3 separate regions of the Homo sapiens genome follow, and all the other regions are linked to region 2. Evidence: fine-mapped expression QTL. A gene starts in region 2. Each other region holds a variant in brackets. All regions are shown on one strand. Distances are between the middles of the regions.

Region 1 (8,179 bases), 870 kb before region 2:
CCATCTCTACCTGAAAAAAAATTTGTAAAGGAATTATTGGATGTTTACTTAAATTCTTTCTTATTCCTGAACTCCTTTTTCTCACCAAAAAAAATCCTAGTTCTCAAAGGCCCAGGAGATGACAGAATTGAAATACACAAGAATTACTTATTTCCTTTATCCCATATTACACACACAGCATTCTTAGTATAAAATGCCAATACTACTTCCATCAACATCATTATTGAAAACAGTTAAAATTTTTTTATTATGCTTTTTTTCTGCATGCATTTCTTATTCTCTTATCCCTCAATTTATAAATAACTGTACTATATCTATATTGTCAGAGAATATAGCCATTATATACTATGCTTTTTTAAAATTTTCACTTATTCTTAATTCTGTAAATTATATATTTAATGTTCACCACCTTATGTTGATGTCTCTCTAGACACTTTGTTTCTCTGAAGTTCATTCTCTAGTGAATTCCTCAGGAAGGAATCATGGGAACAATATTTCCTGAACTGTTACATACTGATAAGTTTGTTTGTACCCTTTATACTTGAAAGTCAGTTTCCCTGAATATAAGATCCTTGGCTCACATTTTATTTTCTTGAGTTATTTAAATATGTTACTCAATTTTCTTCTGGCACAAATGTTGCAGTCAAAAAGTTGATGATAATCCAATTTCCAATCCCTTACAAATCATGGGCTATTTTTGCTTAGACACTCAAAAGATTTTTCTTTTCCTTTGAAGTTCTATCATTTCACTAAATTCATGCCTTGGTGTTAGTCATTCTGGGTCAGTACTCTCAGGAACATGGTGTGACTTTTCAATATGTAGTTTGAAAACTTTTTATTTCTAAATAACATAGTACCTTTTTGAACTATAGCTTCTAGTATTTGTTCTGATCCCTGCTTTGGGTTTTTCTTCAGGGAACCCTGTTCTCTGTATGTTGGATCCTCTTTACCCAACTTCGAGATTTGTCACTTTCTCCTGAAGCCTTTATATCCTTGCTCATTTCTTAGATTTTTAAAAATTTCCATTTGTTTCATTTTCTGTTTCTTCTGAGGAATTATCTCTTGTGTTTATTCACTCTTGCAATCTTTCTAGGTTAGTCTTAATTTCTGAAACTTTTTTCTTTTAAACTCATTTCCCCCCCTAAATTTGTTAATTTCTGAGTTTTTCTATTTCTGATTTATGTTGGGTTTTTTTGCATCTTATTTTGTTTAAATAATTGCTTCTAGCTTGTCTTAAAACAGTAGGTTATAGTTTTTTGTTTTGCAGGCATATCTTTTGGCATGTTTTTCATTATCTGTGAAGATGTTATTCTATTTCTTACTCTTTTTAAAAAAAAACTGTATAGAGTAGGACTTTGATCTTTGCCTGCTGCTCATTTTTGTAAAGGTGAAATTAATTTTTCTGAACTTAAAAATGGGGTTGAGTTCAAGACAGCTTTTATAACTTCACAAAGCTTTCTCTTTTGTTGTTTTCATGCACTGTTAAAAAATATGGCAGCTTATTTTATTTTATTTTTTTAGATTCCTGGTTCTTATAAAAATGTCTCTACTTTTATCTGGATACTCTGCTTCCTTCCCCTCTATCATTCCTGCTCTATTCAATTTTGTTTCCTGTTTCAGCAGTGTCTTCTTGATGTGCAGCCTTGTCCTGGAAGGATGACCTGGCTGGTCAGTTTCAAGAGTTCACAGGGGCTATGCTACTCCATCCTCTTCTCATCTTTTTACATGAGGCCCTTTGTACTTACACACTAATGGAGTGAGCAAAACCCTTCCCGTTTCAGCTCCTGTTGTGAAGCTGGATCTCTGTACTTTCCAGTGAATGAATACCTATTGCCTCTTTGGGGTTACTCCTTGTCTTAGTCCATTTTATGTTGCTATAACAGAATATTGAGTAATTTATAAAGAAAAGAGGTTTATGTGGCTCATGATTCTTGGGGCTGGAAAGTTCAAGATGGAGCAGCTGCATCTGTGAGGGCCTCATGCTGCCTCAACTCTTGCCTAAAATGGAAGGGAAGTGGGGATGTGCACAAAAAGATCACGTGGCAAGGGGGTAAGCAAGAGGGAGAGAAACCAAGGAAGCCAGACTCTTTTTGTCATCCTGCTCTCATTGTAACTAATCCATTCCCTCATGAGCAAGAACTCAGTCCCTAGAGAGGGCATTAATCTACTCATGACTCAAACACCTTTCACTGGGCCCCACCTCCCAATGCCACCACATAGAGGATCCAATTTCAACATGAATTTTGGTGGGGACAAACAAGTCACATCCAAACTGCAGTTTCCTGTTCTTAGAGATGACAAACACCCTGTTTCTTCCCTTTGATTCCTTCTGTATGCATACTAATACTATGCCAGTTTAATAACTGTTAGTTACAAAATAGGCAGTCCCTACCCACCAATATTTTGGTGTTTTAGGGGATGCATTGCCCACTAGTTTTATTGTGAGTGTTTCCCATAGGTTTTTGGTTTTGCTATCTAGTTTGTCTGTTTTTTATTAGTGGCATATTCAAAATGATGCCCCTAACACTGTTGCCATCTTCTCAAAGACATCCCAGGAAGAACTTCAATATTGACAATTTAACATCCTTAAGGAATGCGTTGTAACAACCAAACTGGAGGAGAAAAAGTATGTAAACAGTAGTTTGCATAGAGTGTCTTGTGCTGATTATGACACTGTAGCAGGTCTTGTTGATGGCTTCCCATATCTGCTCAGCCCACCCGAGCTCAACCTCAGGAGGCAGTTGTAATCTCAAGCACCTACATCTCTCTTCTTCTTTACCAGGGACTTTCCCTGGTACCATCAAAGCTTGCCAGCCTGCCTTGTACTTCCTGAGATCACTCCCAAACAAGCTGCCTGAACCCATGTGCTTGTCTCTTGCCTCCTTTTGGGGGAACAAGCCAAGGTAGACACCAAGTTGTGTTCCAATAGCCTGGCCTGATTCAAGCATCTCTCATGTAGTGTAATGATATGGTTTGGCTCTGTGTTCCCACCCAAATCTCATGTCGAATTGTAATCCCCACTGTCGGAGGATGGGCCTGGTAGGAGGTGACTGGATCATGGGGGTGGTTTCTAATGGTTTAGTACCATCCCCCTAGTGCTGTTTTGTGATAGAGTTTTCATGAGATCCGGTTGTTTAAAAGTGTGTAACACCTCCCTCTTCTCTCTCTTCCTCCTGCTCCCACCAAGTAAGATGTGCCTGCTTCTTCTTCCACCGTAATTGTCAGTTTCCTGAGGCCTCCCCAGAAGCAGAAGCCTGTACACCCTGCAGACCTGTGAGCTGTTAAACCTCTTTTCTTTATGAATTACCCATTCTCAGGTAGTTCTTTATAGCAATGTGAGAACAGACTAATACATGCCATCTGGTTATGATTTTCAAAAATGGAATAATGTTAGCTTTATATATATATATAAATGTGTGTGAGTGTGTGTATGCATATATGTGTGTGTATATGTGTACATATAAAATATATATTATATATGTGCATATATATATA[T/G]AGAGAGAGAGAGAGAGAAAGAGAGAGAGAGAGATAGGGTCTCACTCTGTCATCCAGGATGGAGAGCAGTGATGCAATCATAGCTCACTGCAGCCTCAAAATCTTGGGCTCTAGCAATCCTCCCACCTCACCCTCCTGAGTAGCTGGAACTACTACACCACACCTGACTAATTTTTGTACTTTTTGTAGAGACAGGGTCTCACTATGTTGCCCAAGCTGATCTCAAACTCCTGGCCTCAAGTGATTGTCCCATCTTGGCCTCCCAAAATTCTGGGATTACAGGTACAAGCCACTGTACCTGGCAGCTTAATATTTTTGATGACCTTTGGTGAGAAATCTGTTTAGTCTACATAAATTAAATGCTTATCTTTCCTTGTCTACACCCTATTTAATTCCCTCCAGAGGCCCTGATTGATTAGTGGCCTGCCCCAGACATTGTCTTTCCTAAATGCTAGGTTTGTTTTCCAGAATTCAGCAATCTTACCTTCTAATTGCAGGTTCTATTTTTTTTTTTTCTTTTCTGAGCACGGAAGTGAGATTGCTTTATCTGTAGGTGTCAGGGTATCCTCTGTGTTTAACAAAATACGTGTTGAATCATTGTCTCCTTGGTTTTTATGACTGAGAGTCTTATTATAAGTGAGGCCATGCCAGGTGAGACTAGGTCAGGGCAAATGCGACCTTTGATGCCTGATTCCCAGCGCAGACAACTCAGCCACCTTGTTCATGGCTCCATCCCAGTCTGCCTTGCACTCTAGTTAAAGTCTGTCTGTCCCTGTCTGTCTATCTGTCTGTCTATCTGTCTTCCAGCCTTCCTCCTTGAGGGTGAGCTGCATTACCCCTTTGCACTGCCCACCGCCTGCCCCCCACAACCTGTCCCTTGCAGTTCCTCAGCAAGACCTTGGCTGGACAGTCTGTGCCTGAAGGCAGATGGCCCAGACACCAGTAAAGGGAGCTGGGCTTTGCCTCCGAGCCTGCCTCCAGCTAGGGCTTGGGCTTGGGCACCATCTTAGCACATCTGTAACTGGGGCTGAGCTGGCCCATGCTGTGTCCCCCTGAATCTTGGGACAAGGCACCAATGCAGGAACAGGCGTGAAGGGTGCACTCATCAGAGCCCAAGACATCACTGCAACAAGAATGCATACAGGAAGCTCTCTCTGAGGACAGGGACGGGGGACGGAGTGTGACAGGTTCCACACTGCGATATTCATGGCTGCCTCCGTGCCATAGGGCCCCTTGCATGATGTCAAAAGAGGAGACTTGCATCGTCTTGTTGTTTTCAAGCTAACTTTAAACACAACTGACAGCAAGATGTCTCTGGCACGAAAGCCAACAGGGAGGCGACTGTCTCTCTGTTTCCATAGCTACAGACAGGACGCCACTGGGCAGTGCTTTCAACTCCAGGGCATCCCAGGCTCTGCCTGAGGGATGAAGTTTCCTGGGTGCTGGGAGAACCCAGCCACAAAATGGCAGTTGCTGGTCTCAGTTTCTGCCCCAACCACCTTCTATTTTTGGTGAGAGAGTATCATTTTTCCAGATGTCCAAGGGTGTCCATTCAGAACACACTTCTGCAGCCAGGAATCTGGGAAAGCCGGAGATGTCTCCATAAACCTTCTGCAGGCCATGCCATCTGCTGACCTTGACACCTTCTCTGCACTGGAGGACGGCTTAGCAAAGCTGGAAAGGGGGTGTCCCCTGGGAGCCTGGCTGGCTGGCTGTCACTTGCTGAGCCAGGGACAGAAGGAGTTGACAGTACATTTTAGTATTACCTGCTTCCAATTTGGAAAAAATTTTGTGCATCTCGGTTTTTCCAGTTTCTCCTTCACCTCTGTGGACCTGTAAAATAAGGATTTGAGCACATCCCTCCAAAGCTAACTTGTAAATTTCCTGTTGCACTGATATGGTTGGGCTGCTTCCCCACTCAAAATCTCATTTTGAATTGTAATCTCCATAATCCACACGTGTCAATGGCAGGACCAGGTGGAGGTAATTGGCTCATGGGGGCAGTTTCCCCCCATGCTGTTCTCGTGATAGTGAGCGAGTCTCACGAGATCTGACAGTTTTATAAGCCTCTGATATTTCCCCTGCTTGCACTCACTCCATCCTGCCGCCCTGTGAAGAGGTGCCTTCCACCATGATTGTAAGTTTCCTGAAGCCTACCCCGCTATGCGGAACTGGGAATTAATTAAACCTTTTTCCTTTATAAATTACCCCATCTTGGGTATTTCTTCATAGCAGGGTGAGAACGGACTAATACATGCGTCTTCCCGCAGGAGAGTGGATGGCAGAGGCTTACCTTCAGGGGCCCAGGTCGGGTGCTGGACATGGGGCTGGCATTCCAGGTCTGCTGCTCTCGGATGTCCCTCTGAGGGGCATCCTGCCTGATGGGTGGGCTCCCCCTGATCTTGTCTCCTTGGATGCATCATCTGTGAGGCTTTTGTTTTCAGTCCCAGTGGAGAGATTCATACTGCCAGGCACTGTGTGGGCTCCTGTGCGTTGTGAAAATAACGCTTATTCAGGACTGCCTAGGGAAGAAAGGCCATACCTGCTGCTGTTTTTCCATCTCTGCTGTGGCCGCCCACATGGTTTACGGCACAACTTGCCTATGCCAAAAGGGACTGAGAAAACCTGGAAACCTACCAACTACATTTGGGAGATTTTTTTTTTTTTTTTTTTTTTTTTAGAATGTCTGTCTCGGGCAGGCAATAACTAGTACCGAGCTTGGTGACCCTTTTGCTTTCTAGCTCTGGGGGTGCAGATCTGAGCCTCCTCCAGAATGCAGTCCCCCTAGCCTGGCTATGACACTACCACTGGTGTGTCCTTGATGCCACATTTCTAAGCCCATCTGATCATAAACCTCCCTGGGGCAGGGAAGTCTCAGAGTGCACTTCCTCACCTAACGGCATGCCTCCAGTGGCATCTGATAAATGCTTCTGCAGTGTTCCTGGGGAAACAGTTTTATTCATTTCAAAGTAATCCTTTCTTTCTTCTCAAAATCTCCAAACCCAATCCTTAAAACCAAGCATTACATTTAGAATAGAATTCAAGTTTGGATTTTAAAAAATGCTTTTAAGTACGTCAGGAACTCAGAAGATACTTAAGCCCAACTTTCCTACCACATGATGGAAAGACACTTGGAAAGGACAGAAGAGTTTTGTTGTTGTTGTTGTTGTTGTTTTGAGATGAAGTCTTGCTCTGTTGCCCAGGCTGTAGTGCACTGGCATGACCTCAGCTCACTGCAACCTCCGCCTCCCCAGTTCAAGCGATTCTCCTGCCTCAGCCTCCAGAGCAGCTGGGACTACAGGTACGTGCCACCATGCCCGGCTAATTTTCTGTATTTTTAGTAGAGATGGGGTTTCACAGTGTTAGCCAGGATGGTCTCAATCTCCTGATCTCGTGATCTGCCCGCCTCAGCCTCCCAATTCTGAGATTACAGGTGTGAGCCATCGTGTCCGGCCAGGACAGGAGTTTTGAAAATGCACTCTGGGCTCTGATTCTGGAAAGGAGATCCTGACTTCAGAGGCCCTGCTGCCCTACTCAGACTCCAGAAGGTTGAGTAAAGTTGAGCAAGCTACAGCCACTCTGCTCTGGGAAGCCAGTAGCAAGTGCTGAGCCTGGACAATTTGAACTAAGCCAGAGAGCTCTCCAAATTAGGGAGCATTTAAATAGAAGTGCTGTTTATTTAGGTCATATAGTAATTTCCTTATTTTAATCGCTACCCCAGTTAATGACTAACAACATATAACCAAACAAGGTTAGCCCAGCCAACTTGACTGAATAGAGAGAACTATTTATAATGAGCTCATTCGTATCTGAATGCAGATAGATGCACAGAAGGACTCCAATGTTAATAGAAGTCAAAATCCATTTACTGTACAAGGTGGGGGAGATGTTCCCCCTGCAAGCCTATTCCCACTGCCTTTGACTGACAGTAAAAAAGTAAACTTCAGCCTGGCCGTGTATGACGTGAGTGCTGAATTAGTTTGGTTCCAATTAAATAGGATTTACTGAATTGTGACATGGACATATTCTAGAATTTTAAACTCTTTACCCCAAAAGTAAAAAGAAGAATCTCTACTATTTCTGTCAAGAGCGTCTTAGACCCCCTCCTGCAGTTCATCATCACCTTAGACAGTGTCCTTCGCCCCACCACGGGCAGGCCTGGAGAAGGAGCCCCGCCACTGGAGGATCATCCGTCTCAAGGATACTTGGGAACTGAAGGAGTGACCAGGAGCAGGCAGTCCAGTGGAGATCTTTTTTTTTTAATTAAGAAGCATCAAAATGAACTTGAGTTTGGCAAGACCTCAATAGAGTAGCCAAGCTGGCTCCAAGCCTGGTTTGCATGGAGGGGCTGGACTTGGCTTGGGCATGGCTCTGTCTTGGGCTCTGGGGTCAGCAAAGCCCCCTGCAGGCCTGCCCACCTCAGGCTGTGGGGAGCGCATCAGGGCCACCAAGGCAGTGAGTGGTCTGCAGCTCTAGGGATGGCGACCCATCCTAGAGAGCCAACAGCTGCCCCCAGAGTACTCGAACCTTATTCCCTGGTTCCTGCCTTCTTCCCTCCTGGGTACTCAGCGCCTCTCTGCTCTGTTGGATTCCCCAGTGTCCTTTTAAGAAAGTCTGGCAGGGCATGGTGGCTCATGCCTATCATCCCAACACTTTTGGGAGGCCAAGCAGGAAGATGACTCAA
Region 2 (8,179 bases):
ATACAAATTCCTCCCCAGAGAGCTGGTTGTTAGACATTTACCAGCACACCACTGGACTCAGGAGGAAAATGCCCAGAGAGAGGTGAACACAAAGAACATTCCTGCAACAGGGGAGGACAGAGGGGGAATCAGTGGGGGCTGGACATTGAGTCCATGGACAGTGCTTTAAATCCCTTGAGAGAGCCCCATCCCCATCCTTCTCCTGGACTGTGCATCTCAGACAGAAGGAGCCAGTCTGTTGAGATCACTCAATACCCCTGGAGTGAGGAGATAGAAGATGGGGTCAGGGGGACATTTGGGTAATGTAGAGATGAGACCCCACAATTCTGCAGACTACTTCAAATCCACCTAACATCACAATAGTCTGATTCCCAAGCCATTCATTAAATCTTTTGAATATAACTGCTTAATGTATTTCCCACTTCAAGGATGTACTTAAACTATTCTAATGGTAAATATCAAACATTTTAGGTTGTTTCTGGGTTTTGTAGTTGTCATTTATTACTAGTAGAGCAAGTAATAGGTTTTAGCTGACCCTGGATGTGAATATAGTTTAAATCTTGAAAGCTCTAAGTGGGCAGGTGGGGAAAGAACAGTTGTTATTATTATTATTATTATTATTATTATTATTATTATTATTATTATTATTCTGGAGGCAGGGTATTGCTGTGTCACCCAGGCTGGAATGCAGTGGTGTCATCTTGGCTCACTGCAACCTCTGCCTCCTGGGTTCAAGCGATTCTTGTGCCTCAGCCTCCCAAGTAGCTGGGATTACAGGCGTGCACGACTACACCCAGCTAATTTTTGTATTTGTATTTTAATAGAGACAGGGTTTCGCTATGTTGGCCAGGCTGGTCTCAAACTCCTGAGCTCAAGTGATCCGCCCGTCTCAGCCTCCCAGTGTTCTGGGATTACAGGAGTGAGCCACCGTGCCCAGCCAGAACAGTTATTAAATACTTGACTTTATTGTTTTTGTAGAGACAGGGTCTTGCTCTGTCACCCAGGCTAGAGTGTGGTGGCACAGTTATAGCTCACTGTAACCTCAGACTCCTGGGCTCAAGTAATCCTCCCGCCTCTGTCTCCCGAACAGCTGAACTACAAGTGCCCGTCACCGCGCCAGTTTAATTTTTTGTTTTTTATTGTAGAGATGAATCTCGTTCTGTTGTCTAGGCTGAAGTGCAGTGGTGCCCTCACTGCTCACTGTAGCCTTGACCTCCTGGGCTCAAGCATCCTCCCGCCTTAGATTCCCAAAATACCTGGGACTACAGGCATGTGCCACCATTGGCAGCTAATTTTTAATGTTTTGTAGGGATGGAATCTCACTATGTTTCCCAGACTGGTCTTGAACTCTTGGCCTTAAGCAATCCTCCCATACTGGCCTCTCAAAGCACTGGGATTACATCACACTCAGCCCAACAGCTGCCTTTAAATGCAGAGAGCTCCCTTTGAGCATCTTTTCAGAAGGCTGGAGATCCTAGGACAGAATAGATCAGGGGTCCCCAACCCCTGGGCCACAGACCAGTATACCACCGCCTGTTAGGAACTGGGCCACACAGCAGGAGGTGAGCAGAGGCGAGGGAGCATTACCACCTGAGTCCCACCACGATTCTCACAGAAGCACGAAGCCTATTGTGAACTGCGCATGCGAAGGACCTAGGCTGTGTGCTCCTTATGAGAATCTAATGCCTGATGATCTGTCACTGTCTCCCATCACCCCCAGATGGGACCGTCTAGTTGCAGGAAAACAAGCACAGGGCTCCCACTCTTTCTATGGTATAGTGAGTTGTATAATTATTTCATTATATATTACAATGTAATAATAATAGAAATAAAGTGCACAATAAATATAATGCCCTTGAATCATCCTGAAGCCATTCCCACCCTCCCCATCCCTGTCTGTGGAAAAATTGTCTTCCACAAAACCAGTCCCTGGTGCCAAAAAGGTTGGGGACCGCTGTAGATTACCTAAATGATGTTGGGATTATACGACACGGTTGTGATTGGATTATTGTCTGCATTTTTGATAACTTCCCTTGAATAGATGTTTAGCAGCAGTATTACTGCTTCTAAGTTTCGTGTTCGTTTGTGCGGATGTTGACACCGCCAAACTGCTCTTCCCAAAAGGATATCCCAATTTGCACTCATACCAGTAGCATATGTGCAACTGTTTCACCACAGTCCTGCCAATATTGTAATTTTTAAATAGTAGATAATGCAGTCCATGAAATGTGATATGACTGAACTGGCTTTTCCTTTCTCATTTGAAAGGTAGACCATTTTTCATGTCCTGGCTTCCCTGGGTATTTGCTCTCCCAAATGCTGGCTTCTAGACCCCGCACGGAGTCTCATGCCTGTAATCTCAGCGTTTTGTGTGGTGGTGTGCGCCTGTACTCCTACGTACTCAGGAGTCCGAGGTGGGAGGATTGCTTGAGCCCAGGAGGTTGAGACTCTGGGGTGTGTGTGATCACTGTGAGCTGTGATCACACCACTGTACTCCAGCCTGGGGGACAGAGCGACACCTTGTCTGAAAAAAACAAAACAGCGCAACTCCCCCACCCTCCGCGCACACGAAATGCTTGCTTCCACTTCCCCTACCCTGGTGGGGCAGGGGCTGGAACTCCGCAGGCTATGGGAAGGTGCTGGGGTTAGCGGCCCCAGCGGGTGCTCAGTGGTGTTGAGGCCACACTGCCCTGGGCGGTCTGGCCGGGACAGTTCCCGTGCGGGCTCCCTGCGCGCTGAGCCACTGTAGGCGCCTTCCCGAAAATCTCTGAGCAGAGAGGGCCTGGAAAACAGTACTCTCTCACGCAACACTTTTCTTGGATCCATCAGGCCCTGACAGATAACGGTTTGGTTTTCTTCCCTATAGCCGTGTGACTTGTACAAGGGATTTTAGTTGTGTCCTTGGGCACGAAGCCCTAGTCACCTCTCGATTCCCCACCTATGTGGCCCCTATGGCCCCGCTGGTTCCAGGACCTCCCCTCGAAGCCTCACCCACCACCCTGGATGCAGGTGCTGGAAAAGGGAGGAGTCCCCATATTTCACGGGGACTGCCTGTGATGGCCACAGGGGAGGCTCGCCGCCCACCGGCTCTGAGCCTGAGGCCTGCTTCTAGCCTGGCCTTGGGGGCCTGGGCGAAGCGACCCAGCGCGAGGACCAGTCCCCAACCAACCCGCTCCTAGTTCTGGGCGCCTTCCCCAGCAGTCAGATGGGGGCTTCAGAGGCCGGTGCGCGGCCACATGGCCCCGGGCCAGGCAGGGGGTCGTGGGGACGCATCTGCGCTAGGCGCACAGTATTCCTGGGCGCGGGACGGGCGAAGCGCCGTGGGTTCCAAGCTGAGCTGGGTCGGCCCTGCAGCGCCGGAGAGCAAGGCGGCGCAGGGAAGGGAGATGGGGCGGGATGTGGGGAAAGCTGTCGACTGCTTGGATCTCTCCGGCCCGGATGGCGCCAGCTGCCTCCAGCTCAGCCTGCGGAAATCCGAGCTCTTCCCAGCGGCCCGACGGCCCGGGCGCCCCGCAGACCCTGGGCTCTCCCCGCGGTGCCTCCGCCGCCCGCCCCTGCGTCCTGGCCCGGCCTCCACGCCCCTCCGAGGTCCCGGCGCAGCGCGGCCGCCGCCACTCCCCCCACATTCCAGAGGCCGCAGCGCCGTCTCCTTCCTCGCATTCCTGCCCCCGCAAAGGAGTCCCTCCGCCCCGCGCGAGGCCGCGGCGAGGAGGGGGCGCGGCCCGGCGCCTGGGAGCTTACATTCCTCCGCCGCGCGCGCCGCCGAGCAGGGCGCCGCGTCCCCCGGCCCGCGCGTGGCCGCCGGAACGACCCCGGCCCGGCGCCGGCCCCGCCCCGCCCCGCGCCCAGGGGTCCCGGGGCGGGCTCCGGGCTTCGGGCGGACGATGCGGCGGCCCGGCCGGAGCGGCGGCGGGAAGCGGAGGCGGAGGTGACGCGCCAGGGCCGGCGGGCCGGGCCATGCAGCGCTCCAGGGCGGGCGCGGACGAGGCGGCCCTACTCCTGGCCGGGCTGGCCCTGCGGGAGCTGGAGCCCGGGTGCGGCTCTCCCGGTCGGGGGCGGCGGGGGCCGCGGCCTGGGCCTGGAGACGAGGCGGCGCCCGCGCTGGGCCGCAGAGGGAAGGGCAGCGGCGGCCCCGAGGCCGGGGCGGACGGACTGAGCCGCGGGGAGCGGGGTCCCCGGCGCGCGGCGGTTCCGGAGCTCAGCGCGCAGCCTGCGGGCAGCCCACGGGCCAGCCTGGCGGGGTCCGACGGCGGCGGCGGTGGCGGCAGCGCCCGATCCAGCGGCATCAGCCTGGGCTACGACCAGCGCCACGGCAGCCCGCGCTCCGGTCGCTCGGACCCGCGTCCCGGTCCCGGGCCGCCTTCGGTGGGCAGCGCCCGCTCCAGCGTTTCCAGCCTCGGCTCCCGGGGCTCGGCCGGCGCCTACGCTGACTTCCTCCCGCCCGGCGCCTGCCCCGCGCCCGCTCGCTCCCCGGAGCCTGCGGGGCCGGCTCCCTTCCCGCTGCCTGCACTCCCGCTGCCCCCTGGCCGGGAGGGCGGCCCAAGCGCGGCCGAGCGGCGGCTGGAGGCGCTCACCCGGGAGCTGGAGCGGGCGCTCGAGGCGCGCACGGCGCGGGACTACTTCGGTGAGCTCGCTCGGCCCGGCAGTTCCCTGCGCGCATGGCTGGGGTCCGGGGTTCCGAGACTGCCTCGGGTAGGCGGCCGGATCAGCGGAGGAGAGCACGGGGCTGGCTGGGGGTGCAGCAGTGCACGGGGTTGGGACGAGGAAGGTGCATCCCCTGGGGACTGGGGAGCGCAAAGGGTGAGTGAGTGCGCCTGGATCCCCAGCAGCGGCTTCACCCCTGCCTCTGGGTCCCCCGACACACGAGGGGTTCTGGCCGAGTGAGTTGATGTGCGGTTCCTAACTTAACAGGCAAGTCAGGTTCATGGGCACACTGAGCCATTTTCTGATAATTTTTTCTTCTTTCTTCTTTTTTTTTTTTCTTTCTTCTTTTTTTTTTTTTTTTGAGACAGGGTCTTCCTCTGTCGCCGAGACTGGAGTGCAGCGGCGCGTCCTCGGCTTACTGTAGCCGTCGCCTCTCAAGCTGAAGCGATCCTCTCGCCTCAGCCTCCCGAGAAGCTGGGACTACAGGTGCACACCACCATGCCCAGCTTTTCTTCTTCTTACTTTTTTTTTTTTTTTTTTTTTGTAGAGACAGAGTCTCCCTATGTTGCCCAGGCTGGTCTTAAACTCCTGGGCTCAAGCGATCCGCCCTCCTCGGCCTCCCAAGGTGCTAGGATTACAGGCTTGAGCCAGTGCGCCCGGCCTGATCTTTTCTTCTTTGCGTTTGGTGCTCTCATTCTATCTGATCCTTTCATGCTTCGTGATGAGCAGAAAGGGGTGCTTCCCCGTCTGCCCCGCCACGGTATGGGTGTGGACAGCAACCGGGAGATGGAGTGGCCCAGGTACCACCGGATACCGCCTGACCCAGGCTTTGGTGATGGTAGCGGCTGGAGAGGGAGACTGTGTGAGGGAAGAAAAGCCCACTTTGCGGGAGAGGGGAACCGTGCCAGTCACACGGGGCTGCCCTCGCCCGGACTGTGCTGTGGACATAGGATGTTTCCTAAAGGAATCCTGCTGCAGGTGCATCTGCAAAGCCCAGCAGCCTCACAGCCTCCACTTCCCAGTGTGGCCCAGGCCCCCTGATCTCTAGTTCTTGGGACAGCTCTTGGGGTGAGATTGTGAGCGGGGCAGAGGTATACTGTGGGGCCTGGGGCGAGAACTTCCCAACCCGCCTTCTGTATTAAGCACCTGGCTTTGGTGGATGGATGGTCACCATGCCTGGGACCGTGGCTGTCCTGGGGTTTGTGTCTTTGAGCGTTCAATGGTGTCAGCAGCTCACGGCTGCCCTGAACTGGATCTTTTTTTTTTTTTTTTTTTTTTTTTTTTGAGACGGAATCTCGCTCTGTCGCCAGGCTGGAGTGCAGTGGCGTGATCTTGGCTCACTGCAACCTCCGACTCCCTGGTTCAAGCGATTCTCCTGCCTCAGCCTCCCCAGTAGCTGGGATTACAGGCATGCGCCACCACGCCCAGCTAATTTTTGTATTTTTAGTAGAGGCGGGGTTTCACCATGTTGGCCAGGATGGTCTTGATCTCCTGACCTCATGATCCGCCTGCCTCAGCCTCCCAAAATGTTGGGATTACAGGCGTGAGCCACCGTGCCCGGCCCTGAACTGGATCTTGAGGGGTGAGGAGTCTGTCAGTGAGGGGCCAGGTGGGGGCATTCCAGAGAGAGGGAAGAATGAGCAGAGGAGGCCAGGCGGGATGAGAGATTGCCCCGCTCTTCCCCCTGGGGTTGCAGCCCAGAGGGCTCAGGTGGTCGAGGGCATATGTGGGCTAAGAGGAGGTGCGCCTGCTTTGGGATGGAGAGCGCCTCCCATCTGTGAGGTCATGGTGAGACTCTGTGGCTGGGCAGGTCTCGTGGCGCCTGTTGGATGGCCTGGGAGCAGGGAGATGTGCCAGGAGCTGTCATCTCCCGTGTCAGGCAGGTGCCAGGAAGAGAGGCTGGGGCTGAGTTTTGAAGGGCATGCTTTCCAGTGCCCTCTGCAGGGGAGAGTGCCCATTTCCCGGCCCCTGTGTACTGCAGAGCCCGGGGGAGGGGGGTGTTCTGTAGACACCCCTGAATCTTTATATGATATAGGGGTGGCTGAGGTCCCAGGCAGGTAATGTGGAGATGATACAAGAAGGTAGGGTGTGGTGGCACATTTTTTTTCTGAGGAGCTGCTAGGCCGGGTGCGGTGGCTCACACCTGTAATCCCAGCACTTTGGGAGGCTGAGGTGGGAGGAGCACTTGAACCCAGGAGTTCCAGGCTGCAACGAGCTATGATCGTGCCACTGCACTCTGGCCTGGATGACAGAGTGAGATCCTGTCTTTTCTTTAAAAAAAAAAAAAAAAAAAAGCTGCTCAGATCGGGCTGTTGTAGCGCCCTGAGAGTGTTAGAGGAGTGATGATAGACCTTTTTTATTTTGTTTTCAAGAAAAACTAGAAATTGAGATTCAGTAATACTTTCCTGATTTTGTTTACTTTATTTTTTTAAACTTTTTTGAGACGGAGTCTTGCTCTGTCGCCCAGGCTGGAGTGCAATGGTGCGATCTCAGCTCACTGCAGCCTCCACCTCCGGGTTCAAGTGATTCTCCTGGCTCAGCCTCCCCAGTAGCTGGGATTACAGGTGCGTACCGCCATGCCCGGCTAATTTTTGTATTTTTAGTAGAGATGAGGTTTCACCATGTTGGCCAGGCTTGTCTCGAGTTTCTGACCTCAGGTGATCCACCTGCCTCGGCCTCTCAAAGTGCTGGGATTACAGGTGTGAGCCACCATGCCCGGCCCACTTTCCTGATTTTAAAAAATATGGGCAACTATTTGTTTGAACTATATGGTTCTGATGATATTTGACTTTGTTGAGCTACAAAAGTGGCAGTTTCATAGAGTTCAACCAGAATAATACAGCATTTTACAAAAGAAAATCTGCAGGTAGCATAAGCTCGAGTGATCTCTGATAAACCTCGTCCTCAGAGTGTGGCTTTTTTGTTTTAAATTAATTTTTTTTTTTTTTTAGAGACAGGGTCTCACCCTCTCACCTAGGCTGGAGTGCAGTGGTGAGATCAGCGCTCATTGCAGCCTTGAACTCCTGGGCTTAAGCAATCCTCCTGCTTCAGCCTCCTGAGTAGCTGAGACCACAGGTGTGCATCACCATGCTCGGCTACATTTTTTTATGTTTTGTAGACCTGAGATCTTGCTTTGTTGTCCAGGCTGGTCTTGAACTTCTGGATTCAGGCGATCCTCCCTCTTTGGCTTCCCAGTGTTGGGATTACAGGCGGGAGCCACTACGCCTGGCCAGAGCTTTTTTTCTCTCTGTCCAACCCCTCATCTCTTCCTGTCCTTGGCCCTGGTACCAGCTGACCTCTTGGTTGCTCTCTGCCATTCACTGATGTCTTTGGAACTTTCCCCTCTCCCCTCCCCAAGTTCCGCTGCCATTAGCCAGCCAACAGCCTTGGGCTTCCGGAACCTTTTCAACTTTGGTGACCTCCTTGCCTTCTCTTCAGCCACCCACTCCCAGGGCCACACCGTTTTCCCTTCACTCTAGCAGTCCTTAGTGGTAACTCCAGTCTGCTTCTCAGCAGTTCCTCTCATTCCTGTAAT
Region 3 (8,179 bases), 37 kb before region 2:
TTACTAGGCCGGGCGAGGTGGCTCACGCCTGTAATCCCAGCACTTTGGGAGGCTGAGGCGAGCGGATCACGAGGTCAGGAGATCGAGACCATCCTGGCTAACACGGTGAAACCCCATCTCTACTACAAATAAAAAAAATTAGCCGGATGTGGTGGTGGGTGCCTGTAGTCCCAGCTGCTCAGGAGGCTGAGGCAGGAGAATGGCGTGAACCCGGGAGGCGGAGGTTGCAGTGAGCTGAGATTGCACCACTGCACTCCAGCCTGGGCGACAGAGCGATACTCCGTCTCAAAAAAATAAAAAATAAATAAATAGATAAAATTAAAAATAAAAAAACTTCTTACTAAAATGAGAATGTTCTCAACCCGATAAAGGGTATTTTGTAGAAACCTTCAGCAAACATTGTCTTTAATTTTTGCACTCAGAAAAGTATACATAACAGTGTCAACTTGATAAATGTTCACAAAAACTACACTTGGAAGCTTTATTTATTTGGCAAACATTTTTTTTCTTTGGGAGGCTGAGGTGGGTGAATCACTTGAGGCCAGGAGTTTGAGAACTGCCTGGGCAACATGGCGAAACCCTGTCTCTACTAAAAATACAAAAATTAGTGGGGTGTGGTGGCACACGCCTGTAGTCCCACCTACTCGGGAGGCTGAGCCATGAGAGCCGCTTGAACCTGGGAGGCGGAGGTTGAAGTGAATGGAGATCATGCTACTGCACTCCAACCTGGGGGACAGAGCGAGACTGTGTCTCAGAAAAAGACAAAAAAAAAAAAAAGATAATGTGGCCAGGTGCAGTGACACACACCTGTAATCCCGGCTCTTTAGGAGGCCAAGGCAGGAGGATTGCTTGAGCCCAGCAGTTTGAGAGCAGTGTGGGCAACATAGTGAAACCCCATCACTACAAAAAATTTAAAAATTAGCAAGGCATGGTGGCACATGCCTGTGGTCCCAGCTACTTGGGAGGCTGAGGTGAGAGGATCACTTGAGCCTAGGAGGTCGAGGCTGCAGTGAGCTGTGATCACACCACTGCACACTAGCCTTGGGGACAGTAAGACCCTGTCACACACACAAAAAAGATAATCTGGCAAAATTAATATGAGCAGCATTTTTCACTCGAAGGGAAACCTAAATAAGCAATAAGCAAGTTATGTTTTAATCATAAGACTTACTTGGAAAATTAAGTATAAGACCATAGTAAGCTACAGATGCTTCTCAGATACTTCCCGATAAACTCATCATAAATAAAAAATACCATTAAGTAAAAAATGATGCTTTTTTTGTTGTTGTTTTTTTGAGATGGAGTTTCGCTCTTGTTGCCCAGGCTGGAGTGCAGTGCAACTGCAATCTCTGCCTCCTGGGTTCAAGCGATTCTCCTGCTCAGCCTCTCGAGTGGCTGGGATTACAGGCGTCTGCCACCACGCCCAGCTAATATTTGTATTTTAGTAGATACAGGGTTTCACCTTGTTGGCCAGGCTGGTCTCAAACTCCTGACTTCGGTTGATCCACCCGCCTCGGCCTCCCAAAGTGTTGGGATTACACATGTGAGCCACCACGCCCAGCCAAAAATGCATTTTAATATAACCTCAATAAACCTGTTGTAAAGGTGAAAAATCATTGGTGGACCATTTTAAATTAGCGGCTGTCTACTATTTTGCACTCACTAGTTGGCAAAGCGTTAATTTTAGGAAGTGTTAACATGCCATTGTTGGGAGTGACTATCAGAGCTTTGAAATTATAGTTGGGTGGGGGGTTGTACAAAGGATTTCTGTAAGATAACTTTCATTAATCATATACTTGAGGAAATACTGGAAACTTTTATATCCATGAGTTATTAAACAGTTTTTAGGATAACTTTATTAATAAAAGAGAATCTCAGCTTAATACTTTCAAATTGTTTGTTAACACTCTGTTCAGCAGTAAAGAGCCATTCTACCATGAAAAAAAGTTAATCTTGTTCATTGCTGAATTTCTATCCCCTAGATGGGGACTCTGCACCTGAGGTATATAATAATGTTTGTTGAACAGGTAGCTGCAGGTGTAAACACAAACATTATTCTGGTGTTAGAATGTTATCCAGGTTGTAAGTGAAAACCACTCACCTGTTTCTTGAGCAGAGGTTTTAACATTGAAATGTGCAGAGCCTCGCTGATAGGAATGGATGTAGGTCTGCTAAAATTTAACCTTGCTTACATTGCTGTTGAAATTGGGATGCAAGCTGTCCAAGCACATTGTGTTAAACTTTTAAGTTTATAGTCATTTATCCGTTATTCACTTTTTTTTTTTTTTTTTTGAGACGGAGTCTTGCTCTGTTGCCCAGGCCGGAGTGCAGTTGTGCAGTCTCGGCTCACTGCAACCTCCATCTCCTGGGTTCAAGCGATTCTCCTGCCTCAGCTTCCCGAGTAGCTGGGATTACAGGCGTGCGCTACCACGCCTGGCTAATTTTTATATTTTTGGTAGAGACGAGGTTTCACCATGTTGGTCAGGCTGGTCTCGAACTCCTGACTTTGTGATCTGCCTGCCTCAGCCTCCCAAAATGTTGGGATTAAAGGTGTGAGCCACTGCGCCCAGCCAGTTGTTCAGTCTTTATCTCTGCTAAATATTTGGAATATTCTAAATTACATGTTTGTTTAGAATGCTTTGTTATACAGAAGTATTTACTATTCTTAAATTATAGCCAGTTGTTTGGGGAAGAAGATGCTGATCAAGAAGTATCTCCTGACAGAGCTGACCCTGAAGCTGCCTGTGAGTAAATTATTTGGCATATGTTTTATCAGATACTATTATCTTTATTTTGTTGATTTAATTTTGGTAGCTTAAGGGAAAAAAATTGCTATATGTGCTAGGTAATGTGTGTTTAACATGTGTTTTTTTTTTGTTTTTTTTTTTTTTTTTTTTTTTTGTCTCAGAGGTGGAGTTTCTCTCTTATTGCCCAGGCTGGAGTACAATGGTATAATCTCGGCTCACTGCAACCTCCGCCTTCTGGGTTCAAATGATTCTCCTGCCTCAGGCTCCTGAGTAGCTGGGATTACAGGCACCTGCCACCGCGCCCAGCTAATTTTTGTATATTTAGTAGAGACAGGGTTTCACCATGTTAGCCAGGCTGGTCTCGAACTCTTGACCTGAGGTGATCCACCCGCCTTGGCCTCCCAAAGTGCTGGGACAGGCGTAAGCAACCGTGCCTATCCAAAACAATGTTTTACAAAAAAAATATGATTCCGTTTTACTGATGAGGAAATCAAGGTTAAGAGAAATTTCACAAGTCTAGTAAATAGAGCTGCGAGTTGTTCCTAGATCTCATGACTGGTCTGTGCTTTGAACTGTTATATGTGTAGCTTTCAGAAACTAAGTTACAACAGGCCAGGCAAGGTGGCTCACGCCCGTAGTCCCAGCATTTTGGGAGGCTGAAGCAGCTGGATTGCATGAGGTCAGGAGTTTGAGACCAGCCTGGCCAACATGGCAAAACCCTGTCTCTACAAAAAATATAAAAATTAGCCAGGCATGGTGGTGCATACCTGTAGTCCCAACTACTTGTGAGGTTGAGACGGGAAGATGGCTTGAGCCCAAGAGGTAGAAGCTACAGTGAGCCGAGATCTTAACACTGCACTCCAGCCTGGGCAACAGAGTGAGACTTTGTCTCCAAAAACAAGAAAGAAAGAAACTGGGATACAAAAAGATGCTGATGAATGTGTTATTTTCTTATTCCTTGAACTCAGAATGTGTTGCATTTGGGGATTTCCATGAGTGACTTTCTTTTTATTCCCAAAGGTGAGTGAAAAGAGTTCAGTTCTACATTTATTACGGTTGAAAATAAAATAATGATCGTTTTATAGGGGAACCAACGGAAGCCGAAGCCAGAGCTAGAGCATCTAATGAAGATGGTGACATTAAACGTATTTCTACTAAGGAATGGGCTAAATCAACTGGATATGATCCAGTTAAACTTTTTACCAAGGTTAGATTTACTTTTTTTATAATCATGGATAGATGTATTGTTGTGCATAGATGTATTGTTCTAGTTCTGCTTGTTTTAAAATAGTCCATAAAATTGAATTAAGCTTCTATGTATATGCCTTGTGATGTCCTAATAAAATGATTGATGCAGTCAGGATATGCAAGTTTTAAAATGTTACCATCTACACTAAATCTATCAGTATAACATCTAAATAGGAGGTAAAATGAGAGGTGGCTTGTATACCTTCTTGGTTGTCTTTCCTTCTCTCACTTTTTACAGAACTTCTTCGTTTTCCTGCTGCTTCTCATCTTCACTTTTTTTTTTTTTTTTTTTTTGAGATGGAGTCTCACTCTTGTCGCCCAGGCTGGAGTGCAGTGGCACGATCTCGGCTCACTGCAGCCCCGCCTCCTGGGTTCAAGTGATTCTCCTGCCTCAGCCTTCCGAGTAGCTGGGATTACAGGTGTGTACCATCAGGCCTGGCTAATTTTGTATTTTTAGTAGAAGCGGGGTCTCACCATGTTGGCCAGGTAGGTCATGAACTCCTGACTGCAAGTGATCTGCCCACCTTGGCTTCCCAAAGTGATGGGATTATAGGCGTGAGCCACTGCTCCTGGCTTCATGTTCACTTTTATTTCTTGCTCATATCTGCTATTAGCAGTTTGACTGACATGTGTCCTAAATTGCCCTTGAACCCCATAAGCCCCTTTTTCTTGGTGAAATCCCTCTTCATCAGTAGTATATACTATTTGCCTGTTAAATATTTCTAGAGAAATCTGTGAAATTGTTTTTATTGGGTCTACCTAATTATTGTTCATCTAGACCCGTAGGTCCGTGTTTTAAAAGTTTTTTTGTTCTGTCTTGACTCCCTAGCAAGTTGTACGTGTGTGGGGTTTTTTTGACTCTTTTTTTCCTTTTTGTGGAGAATGGGGTCTCACCATGTTGCCCAGGCAGATCTCAAACTCCTGGTTTCAAGTCTCAAACTCCTGGGTTCAAGCGATCCTCCAGCCTCTGCCTCCCTAAGTGCTGGGATTACAGGCATGAACCACTGAGCCTAGCCCCTAGCAAGTTTATCACAGAGCTTAAAACT[T/G]TCTCAGCTCTTATCAAACTGCCTCAGTATTCTTGCAACTCTCACTAAGCAGATGACCTTAAGGATATAATAACAGGTTTGAAACCATTGGACATAATTTACCTGTTGAGAGACTGTTCCACATAACCGAAAACTCTTTTTCTTTCTGCTGGAGAGAATCCACTTTCGGTAAAGGCTAACTTTTGCATGTGGTGTTTTGCTTTCCTTTTGTACCATTCTTCAGACAGGATTTTCGTCTCTGTCCTGTGTCTCGGATCTTTTTTTTCTTGGTTTCTTTTGTCTGCTTTCCAACACGCACAGGTTCTGCTGTCTTAATCAAATGACATACTGCTCTCCCCAGCTTGTATTTCGTCTTATTTCCTCAGTGGTAACAGATGTCACATGTTGACTTTTTTTTTTCTTTCTTTTTTTTTTTTTTTGAGAGAGAATCCTGCTCTGTCGCCCAGGCTAGAGTGCAGTGGCATGATCTCAGCTTGCTGCAACCTCTGCCTCCTGGTTCAGGCTATTCTCCTGCCTCAGCCTCCTGAGTAGCTGGGATTACAGGTCCGCCACTATGCCTGGCTAATTTTTGTATTTTTAGTAGATAGGGGGTTTCACCATATTGGCCAGGCTGGTCTCGAACTCCTACCTCAGGTGATCTGCCTGCCTCGGCCTCCCAAAGTGCTGGGATTACAGGCATGAGCCGTCGTGCCCAGCCCACAGGTTGACTTTCTTATCCCTATTGCATTTATTTCCTCACTACAGCCCTTTTCTAAAACATGGTTGTATTAGGGTTCTCTAGAGGGACAGAGCTAATAGGATAGATATATACAAAGGGGAGTTGATAGAGTATTAATTCACACGATCACAAGGCCCAACAATAGGCCCATCTGCAAGCTGAGGAGCAAGGAGAGCCAGTCTGAGTCTCAAAACTGGAGAATTTGGAGTCTGATGTTTGAGGGCAGGAAGCATCCAACATGGGAGAAAGATGTAGGCTGGGAGGCTAGGCCAGTCTAGTCTTTTCATGTTTTTCTGGCTGCTGTATATTCTGGCCTCAATGGCAGCTGATTAGATGGTGCCCACCCAGATTAAGAGAGGGTTTGCTTTTCCCAGTCCACTGACTCAAATATTAATGTCTTTTGGCAACACCCTCACACACACACCCAAGACCAGTACTTTGCATCTTTCAATCCAATCAAGTTGACACTCAGTATTAAGCATCATAATGGTTTTTATTTTGATTATACTTAAGATGCCGTAAACTTCGATATGGTCAACAGCAGTATCTTCCAAACCAGTATCCTTATTTCCATTCCAATCTGAGCAAGACTTGAAAGCCAGAAAAATCTGAAGTGCATCTCCAATCTGTTATTTAGCAGATAATTTTAAACATCTGCTGTGTGCCAGACACCTCTTTAAGTACAGGGGATTTAGTTGTGAACAAGACAGAAGACAGAGTCCTTGCTCTTTAGAGGGAGTTCACAGTCTAGATGAGAAGTCAAACTTTGAACAATAAATTTCAGCTTCAGAGTCTTAATGACATTAAGTTCAGATGCTTTGCAGCCCTTGAATAATAAGTTTCATCTAAAGGACTCATCTCCTGGCCTGCATACCCATTTCAGATGTTGTTAGGGAGAGGCTTCAGAAGAGGCTTTCTAGAGCAGGTGACATTTAAGCCCAAGGCTTGAAAGAATAAGAGTCAGAATAGGGTACAGTATGTACAAGGAAACTCTGAATAGGGTACAGTATGTACAAGGAAACTCTCAGTTGGAAAACTGACATAAATCCCATTAAGGGGGAGAGTGGAAAAAGATGACTGGAGAGAGAAGTTGAGGTCAGATCAGGCAGACTTTCTAGGCCTTCTTAAGGATGTTATAGCAAGACAGTGGGAATCCATTGAAAGGTGGTCTTACAGGATCACTATAAGGGGATAGAGGGGATGCACATACTACCCTAGGATCTGATATTCATATTATAACCAATCTGGGACAGTGCCCCTGGAGTTGTGCAGTGCCAGAATAATCTGGAGTACAGCCATCTGTACTCCCACTGGAACATGGAGGAGTAGACTAAACAGGACTTTGCATGTATATGGTGAAGATCAGTGGAATAAAAAATGGTACCTGGCTGGGCACTGTGGCTTACACTTGTAATCCTAGCACTTTGGAAGGCTGAGGCGGGAGGATCACTTGAGGCCAGGAGCACAAGACCAGCCTGGGCAATATAGCAAGACCCCATCTCTAAAAACGAAAAAAAAATAGCCAGCCATGGTGGCCTGAGCCTGCGGTCCCCAGCTACTCAGGAGGCTGGGACAGGAATATCACTTGAGCCCAAGAGGTTGAGACTTCAGTGAGCTATGGTCACACCACTGCACTTCAGCCTGGGCAGGTCAAAGAACAGAGGTGCTGTTCTCCGATATAAGTGAGCTGGGAGGCAGATGTGTGTAGAGGGGTTGGGGGAGGGTAGGAGAAGGTGATAATAATCAATTTTGAACTCATTTGAGATTCTTTTGGAACATTAGAGAAGTGGTTTTGTAGATAAGTAGAGAGGTTTCAACTAGGGATATGGTTGGGATTCCTAGGTTTATAGATGTGGTTAACTACTGGAAATGGACATGATACACCACAGAGGACAGAATGAAAAGATGGTTCAGTACAGAAATCTGAGGGGCTCCTGATATTTAGTAATAGTTGAATAGAAGAGATGGAGCTTAGGCTTAGAAAACTGTTGGTTCAAGCCTTCAAGATCCTCTACAAAATGTTTCCAGCCACATTTGTTACCCAAGTCATAGTGGATTCATCTCCTTGCCTTTGTACCCATTTCACATGTTGCTGTCATAAGGAGACTCTTTCCTTATTTCTTAGATAAAATATAAATCTTTTTTTTTTTTTTTTTTTTTTTGAGACTGAGTCTCACTCTGTTGCCAGGCTGGAGTGCAGTGGTGCGATCTCAGCTGACTGCACTCTCCGCCTCCCAGGTTCAAGCGATTCTCCTGCCTCAGCCTCCCGAGTAGCTGGGATTACAGGCACGCGCCACGACGCCCAGCTGATTTTTGTATTTTTAGTAGAGATGGGGTTTCACCATGTTGGCCAGGATGGTCTCGATCTCTTGACTTCGTGATCCACCTACCTTGGTCTCCCAAAGTGCTGGATTACAGGT

Direction of the effects. Alleles are on the strand shown, and positions count from the first base shown. SD is a standard deviation of normalised expression in the study named. Not every link is listed here.
For the expression in monocytes after LPS of the gene that starts at base 3,741 in region 2, allele G in region 1 goes with a higher level than allele T (moderate effect, 0.55 SD a copy in Fairfax 2014).

Evidence for each region.
Region 1: its variant is fine-mapped to the expression of WTIP in monocytes after LPS (Fairfax 2014, PIP 0.95).
Region 3: its variant is fine-mapped to the expression of WTIP in lung (TOPMed, PIP 0.95).

What each region holds. Positions count from the first base shown.
Region 1 is chr19:33,608,605-33,616,783 of GRCh38, forward strand. No RefSeq gene overlaps it. Among named protein-coding and RNA genes, the nearest start is that of CHST8, 9.3 kb to the right of the region's middle. The variant T/G (reference allele first, on the strand shown) is at 3,496.
Region 2 is chr19:34,478,018-34,486,196 of GRCh38, forward strand. It overlaps WTIP (WT1 interacting protein), which reads left to right and starts at 3,741. Exons shown (of 8, transcript NM_001080436.2): 1 at 3,741-4,624. The coding sequence starts at 3,958. RefSeq lists enhancers at 2,814-3,468, 3,469-4,124, 4,125-4,779.
Region 3 is chr19:34,441,168-34,449,346 of GRCh38, forward strand. UBA2 (ubiquitin like modifier activating enzyme 2) reads left to right here. Exons shown (of 17, transcript NM_005499.3): 7 at 2,677-2,744; 8 at 3,833-3,954. Among named protein-coding and RNA genes, the nearest start is that of UBA2, 17 kb to the left of the region's middle. The variant T/G (reference allele first, on the strand shown) is at 5,042.